Homo sapiens: one gene and its partner. The protein of the gene in region 1 interacts with the protein of each later gene in a pairwise test. Each region holds a gene or a part of one and is shown on either strand. Other genes may lie near its edges.

The links.
Region 2: the proteins of RXRG (region 1) and CEBPZ interact in a two-hybrid assay, tested with the Homo sapiens proteins (one large-scale study listed by BioGRID and IntAct).

What each region holds. Positions count from the first base shown.
Region 1 is NC_000001.11:165,438,490-165,442,141, reverse strand, and holds part of RXRG (retinoic acid receptor RXR-gamma), read left to right. Parts: intron 1-3,652. UniProt on the Homo sapiens protein: Receptor for retinoic acid. Retinoic acid receptors bind as heterodimers to their target response elements in response to their ligands, all-trans or 9-cis retinoic acid, and regulate gene expression in various biological processes.
Region 2 is NC_000002.12:37,210,989-37,214,640, forward strand, and holds part of CEBPZ (CCAAT/enhancer-binding protein zeta), read right to left. Parts: intron 2,974-3,652; coding exon 2,876-2,973; intron 2,567-2,875; exon of another isoform or gene 2,449-2,566; intron 1,692-2,448; exon of another isoform or gene 1,405-1,691; coding exon 1,347-1,404; exon of another isoform or gene 1,268-1,346; intron 1,052-1,267; coding exon 855-1,051; intron 187-854; exon of another isoform or gene 95-186; coding exon 11-94; exon of another isoform or gene 1-10. UniProt on the Homo sapiens protein: Stimulates transcription from the HSP70 promoter.

The DNA.
Region 1 (3,652 bases):
CGGCACTTATTAAAATACTTGGTGTATAACCCCCTGCCCTGTTACATATTAGCACATGGAATTACAGAGGGCCCCATGATTTGTATAAGAATCTCCAGGGAAGCAAAGTCACCTTTTGGAAATAACACCTGAGATTTGTGTCTGGGACCATGCTTACCAGATGTCAGAGCATCATCTGATCAGTGAGCAACAGATTGCTCAAACTGGCCAAAGTGTGGTGGCTACGTGGTGGCTCCACAAAGGTGCCCAATCTCCCAGCTTTGGGCCCTACCATGTAATGATGAGAGAAACCTTCTCTTCTCCTTCTCTGCCAAGTCCAGGGTTTGCCAGCTGCTCAGTAATAGGTTTGTTTTTCTGGGATGAGACAGTTGCTGCCTCTTAGAAGATGGCAAAACAAAGCCTGTAATCCCCCCCATCCAATTGTGCAGTAATCCTCAGGGTGAGAAGGAGATCAGGGAGAGAGAGGACTTCTCTCATTTCATTTAACAAACACACTGTAACACTAATGCTCGCTACTATTGTAAGCACTTTACCAGCCTCGGCTCATGTAATCCTCATAACAACCCTAGGAGTAGGTACTGTTACCATTGTTCTCGTACTCCTTTTAGAGACAAAGAAACAGAGGAATTGAGAGGTGAAATAACTTGCTTAAGGTCTTATAGCTAGAAAATGGCACAGCCAGGGATTGAACCCAGGCAGACTAGCTCCCAGAGTTCACACTGCTGAGCTGCCTCTCACAGCTTCTGTGAGTGACACAGTTGCTCTGCAAAGCCAGGGGCAGCAGCACACCCCCAGGGAGCTCCCGGTGCTCCAATACAACCTCAGATATGCAGCCTCAGCACTGACTGGTTGTTGCAGACCCAGTGGACTGGCCATTGAGGAATAAGCCATGGGATAGGTTAAGAGCAACGGTGATCTCTGCAGAATTAATTGGTGGCTTCCCTTGGGTACATACTTATTTGCAAGAGTCCTGTCCAACTGACCCTGACCATTCATGTAGAATAGTTGCTTTCACTTGAAAATAGCCATAGAGAAGGGGTTGAGTTGGACCTGCTTGTATGTGTGCGTGTGCACATGTGTGTATATGCTAGAACATATTTTTCCCCTCCACAGATATGTGGGTGGCTAATTGGAACCTATCATGGGCATAAGTGGTTAAGGTTTATGTGGAAAGGAGTAACTGTTTATGAGATTTAGGAAGGAACATATTTCGTATAAACTATTTTCTAAAACATTTACAATCTCACCAAGAGATAGAGAGCTGAATAGCAACTGGGGGAAGAAATTGTGCAAAGAGAATCTAAATGCCCCACCTCTTCCTTCCCCTCATTATGAAGCTTCTAGGTCTGCAGAGAACTTAGCCACCAGCATTGGATCGCGGGTGTGCCAGGGGCTCCCAGAGGAAGCTGGTGTTTTCTCCTCTTTTTAAAAGTAGAAGACACAGAGGCCCAGGGAATGAAGTTAATTTTCTAGAATGCATGGGCTTTGGTGGCTCTCATGAGATTGACTCAGCCCTGGCTCAGTGATCCTCAGAAAAAAGTGAAAATACAGGTTGAGTATCCCTAATCCAAGCATCTAAAATCTGAAATGCTTCAAAATCCAGAACTTTTTGAATGCCAAAATGATGCTCAAAGGAAATGCTCGTTGGAGCATTTTGGATTTCAGATTTCTGGATTATAGATGCTCAATTGGTAAGTATAATGCAAATATTCCAAAATAAAAAAAAATCCTAAATCCAAAACACTTCTGGTGCTAAGCATTTTGGATAAGAGATACTTAACCTGTATCAACTCGTTTCATAACTAAAACACCACTTTAAGGTCGGTAGTTTTATTACCCCCATTATACAGATGTAAAAACTGGGGGACAGAGAAATTAATAATTTGCCAAAGGGAACTTGGCTAATAAATGATAAAAGTGGCATTTGAATATGAGGAAAAGCAGCAGATCTGGATTTTAATCCCAGCTCTACCATGTACTATACTGTACTACTCTGTAAATTCTTACAGCAGTTACCCAGCACAGACCTTCCTGCCCCTTCCCAATTCAATACTTGGCCTCTCCCAGGATTTTGACCCTGGCCTTTCTCACTAGAACACTCCACATCTTGACTCTATCTCTTCACAATTCAACCCCTAGTTTGGGTTCCCTTCCTCAGGGCTCCCAGCCCAGCCTAATCTTCTTCTCCCTCCTCTTTCCACATAACAGCCACTCAGACACCAGGGATTAGCTAATATGCATTTCTTATATTTGAATTATTATCAGCATATTCAAGGGGACTTTCCTATAAACATTTAGGCTGCACAATCACCCTGAGATGGAATGGGAAGGTATTTTATAACTGTTTTACTGGTGCAAAGCTTTACATTTTAACCGATGTAGAAAACAAGATGTTAGACATTAAATTTCCAGTGAATGGGGAGCAGAGAGAAGCTTTCTTCTGATGGGAAGGAAACCTTCTCTGCTATGGAAGCCCTTTCTGGCTTCCTCAGTGGGGAAAAATCAAGGAATGTGTTGGAGAGTGGAGAGCATGTAGAAGAGGCCCTCCTTCTGCCCCCAGAGGCTCAGGCCTCTCAGCCTCTCAGTGGGAATGTGAGAATGAAAGCATGCATTAGCTGATGGGTTGACGCTGCTGCATGCTTCACGCAACCCCAGTTCGGACCAGCTGGCTAGCCTTTCGAAGCCGCACAGGGCAGTTCCACCTGGATTCATGTAGCCCCCAGAGAAGGGCTGATGAGCTGCTCAGGGTGGGAGCTGGGGTTGCTTCCGGTGCTTGAAGGAAGGGGGAGGGAGAGAGTGGCATCCCTGCCTCTCTCCCTCTCCTCCACCCCCCTCCTCCCCTCGCTCCCACTCCTCCCATCTTCCTCCACCCCCGCCCCCCTCCCCTAAAATCTGTAATGATGGAGGTAGTGAAAAGCAGGGAAAGATTGATAATCAGCCTCATTATTACCAGCATTATATATAATTATAGCAAAACCTCACTCATTTGGATCAATTGAGAGAAAAATCAGTCTAAATTCGTGACAAGTTGGCAGATTACTTTTAAATTACAATTTTATTACTTCTAAGTAACACATGTGAACAGTTTGTGTTTCAAGTACCACAAGCTAATGGTTACTCAGTGGGGATTTTAGAAAACCTGCTTTAAAAGATTCTTTTGTAATTAACACCCCGTTAATATGCCAATGTGCTCCTTCTATGCTTTTTAAATTGCTTGAAAACATATGTATCTTAAATAGGCTTAACATTTCTACCATCTTATTTGCTTAACAAACCTTTTTTATTATTATTTTGTGAATGAACAAATACAAACTAGTTTATACCATGACCAGTTTAGTCACCACTCTGAATTAATTATGTTGTAAATTAATAAGACCATGTTGGTTGTTTTTGTTTAGAAATCAGACTTTTAGAACTTGAAGAACCACCTCATTTTATAGAAGAGAGGTTGAGAGACTTGCCCAAGGCCATATAGGCAAAAACAGCAGGTCTTCTGGCCCCTGGGTCCAAGTTTATTCCGTCTGCTAGATAATGCCTTACATTCCTAAAACTCTTTATGAATATGTGCTATTTATTTCCATACCAATCATTGGGTTATCTGTCAAAAAATATTTGGTGAGTGTCTATTCTGTGCCAAGCCGTGTGCTTAATC
Region 2 (3,652 bases), on another chromosome or scaffold:
ATTTTCTTACCTTGAAATGAGCCAGCAAAGTCAAAATCATCTGTACCTTTTCTCTTGCTTTTCTTAGTACTGACTTTGGAGTGGACTTCAAGTTCTGTTACACGAAAAAATTTGCTAATAAGCAATTTAAAAACAATAAGACTGGAAAATATTACTCCAAGATATGCTAAAATCTTTATTCTGATGGTAAGGCACTATACTGCTATTCCATGTGGGTTTTGTAATTCCACTAGCATAGGCTTGAGGACAGACTGAGAAAAAGACTCTAAGAATTGGCACAGTTCTAATATTTTGTGCAAGTACAAAATTTTCTAAATAGCTTCATTAATAAGACCAAATAATATAAAACCCCTTAAAACAAGAAACTTCTGCTGTGGTTCAGAATAAGTAAGAAGAATGTTGGGCAGGCATGTGCATGCTGGAGGTATGTGAAAGGACAGAAAGGTCAGACAACAGTCTAGAGACAATTCTGGGTGTTCCTTGCTAATTTACAAGATAAAATATTCACCTTCATCTATGCTGGGCTATGATGAATACTGATTAACTTTTATAAACTGCTAATTACTATCAAAAAATGGCAGCATTTCAGCTCAACATGTATTGTACAGAGAAGCTAGCTGCTGGTTAAAGTAAAAGTCCAAAGCTCAAAAAGCTGCTTAAAAGAAAACACACATAACACACAATAAAAACCCTTCAGCTCCAAACGAGAAGGGAAAAGGTCCTTTTAAGTTTCTGGCTGACATGAGTATTAATTTGAATACAGGGCTATATTAAAAACCTTTAGCAGAAAAACAAACTTAAGGCTAAGGAAGTGAGGAAGACACAGTTTATGTCTTATTTTAAAAAATGCTTACCTGGAACGCTCTCACTTTCATCATCTAACACATCCATGAATGTTCCTCCATCTTCATCAACTTCAGCAAATTCTTCATCATCCATACTTCCTAAAGAAACTTCATCGTCATCCAGGTTACCAAGTTCATCATCACTACCTTCTGAATCTTCATCTAATGTGTTATCCTTAGCTCCTTTTGTTCTCTTTTTCACGTTTCTGGAAAAAAACACAACTTGTAATACAAGAGGAGGCAGTATTTTCTAAAGTAGTGTTTTGCTGACTACTAGGGCAGTAGGCTATTAAATGACTCAGAAGGAGAAAGCTTTGCAGACTGCTCAGAGTAAATAATAACGTGCTTTATAAATGTCAAAGATGAAAGTACTGTATCCACTTCCCAAACTTACTTGACTACATTTCCCCTTTATCATATAGTTCTGTGGTCTACTGTTCTGAGGGACAACAATTTGGGAAATGCTAGAAAAATAGGAAGGAGAAGATAGAAGTATGTTACCCAGCAAAATCCATATCATCCTTTCCAGAGCTGAAACAGTTATCATCTTCAAATGTGTCTGCCAGACAATACAGAAATGTGAGATACAACAAAGAATGACAAGCTTGACATATATCTTGTATCTGAATCAATTATTCTAAGTCATGATTCTGCTGTTTATGACAAGTGAACACCAAAACAATGTAAATGTTACTGTTGCTAGTGTGCCTTAATAATGTATACAAACCTGTGAAATACTGATCTTAGTTAAATCCCAAAACTAAAGAAGGATCCAGTTAATTTCGGCTCTTTCTACAGTTCTTTTATGGAAAGAGGATAAATATCAAATAAAATGATATTTAGCAATTGTCGTCCTTTTTACTCTATTAGAACTACTTAAGTGCTCATTTTTAATAGGTGTGATACAATATGTAACATCTCATGCTTGTAATTCCAGCACTTTGGGAGGCCGAGGTGGAGTGATCATCAGCCTGGGCAACACGGCAAGACCCTATCTCTATTAAAAAAAAAAAAAAAACAAAAACAACAACAACAAAAAAAAAAACAAAAAAAAAACGAGCCGGACATCATGGCATGTACCTGTAGTCCCAGCTACCCGTGGGGCTGAGGCAGGAAAATCGCCTGAGCCCAGAAGGTCTAGGCTGCAGGGCTGCAGTGAGTTGGGATTGTGCCACTGCACTCCAGCCTGGGAGACAGAGAGAGCCTGTCTCAAAACAAACAAACAAACCCCCCAAAAAACAACAACAAAAAAATATGTAACGTGAAATCAGTGTAAGTCTTTCCAATTTACCATGTTTTTTGTTTAAGTCTATTAAGTTTCAATCAAAATTTCTGTAGCTCTGTGGATTAAAGATAAAAAAGATCAAACAGTAGACTATTGCTATCAATTAGTACTGATATACTATAATAGATTATGAATAGTAAAAAGGATTTCTTTTTCACATGAGATTTGGCTGTAACAATTGAATAGACTTAAGCAAATATAAATGTTTTCTTATATAGACTATCCAAAGCACAAATCATGTATTTTTCTGGTGCAAATGTGGGTGAATTACCATATATCATAAAAATATTTGTTTCTTTTGTTTTTTTTTTGAGACAGGATTTCACTCTGTCACCCAGGCTAGAGTGCAGTGCCGTAATCTTGGCTCACGGCAACCTCTGACTCCTGGATTCAAGCGATTCTCGTGCCTCTGCTTCTCGAGTAGCTGGGACTACAGGTGCGTGCCACCATGCCCAGCTCATTTTTTGGGGTTTTTAGTAGAGACAGGGTTTCACCATATTGGCCAGGCTGGTCTCGAACTCCTGACCTCAAACAATCTTCCTGCCTCGGCCTGCCAAAGTGCTGGGATTACAGGTGTGAGCCACAGCGCCTGGCCCCAAATATTTCTTAATCTTCCACTGTGATTTGCATGATATTCTTAGCTAAGTGATTTTTTAAAACTAAGGCCACTTCTCCCACTAATGTTCCATGGTCTATTAACACATAGTAGTAGATTATTTTACAAAGAGTCAACAAAACAAATTACCAATCAGCTCTTCAAATTCTTCATCATCCACGTCTTCTATACTTTCTTCATCTGCATCCCGTTTTTGTTTCTCTTTAACAGCAACTTTTTTATAATACCTATAATATTCATGTTATATATTTGACAATTTTATTAAAGGTCTAATCTTACTATATATCATCAAAGCACCTATGACCAGTGGCAAACCACAACTGTAAAATCTTAAGTATACTCAATTGGAAATAAATGACTGAAATTTGTATCTAATATACAAAAAATAGTTTAACTCAATAAAAAGTAGCTGGAATCTTTTAAGTGTAATACATTTCAAAGATAATATTTTATCAGCCCTATTCTTATATTAGAATACAGCAAAACTTAGCCATTTACAGATGTAATCAAACCCTCAAAATTATTCATTCTAAATGATTTTAAAAAACAAGCCAAATCAAACCTAATTAACCAGTCAACCAGATGAGATAAGAGGTACTTTACTACCCTAAGGCATTAGGTTATGATACTAGTTGGTTTAGGACTTATTTCTATAACAGTGCACTGAATCCATTCTAAGGGCCATGGTCTGGATAAATTACCCATGAGTTATCACTATATTAAACTTAAAGTATTATATTAAAATCTATATTAAAGGTAGATTTTAAGCCTATAAAGAAAATTATTATAAAAGGAAATTAAAGGCTAAATTCCAAAAAGAAGCATAAAACAAAATTTATATGCTAAATTAACAAAACTCCCAAATTTACTTTAGTTTTACTAAGATATATTAAGATTAGCAAAATG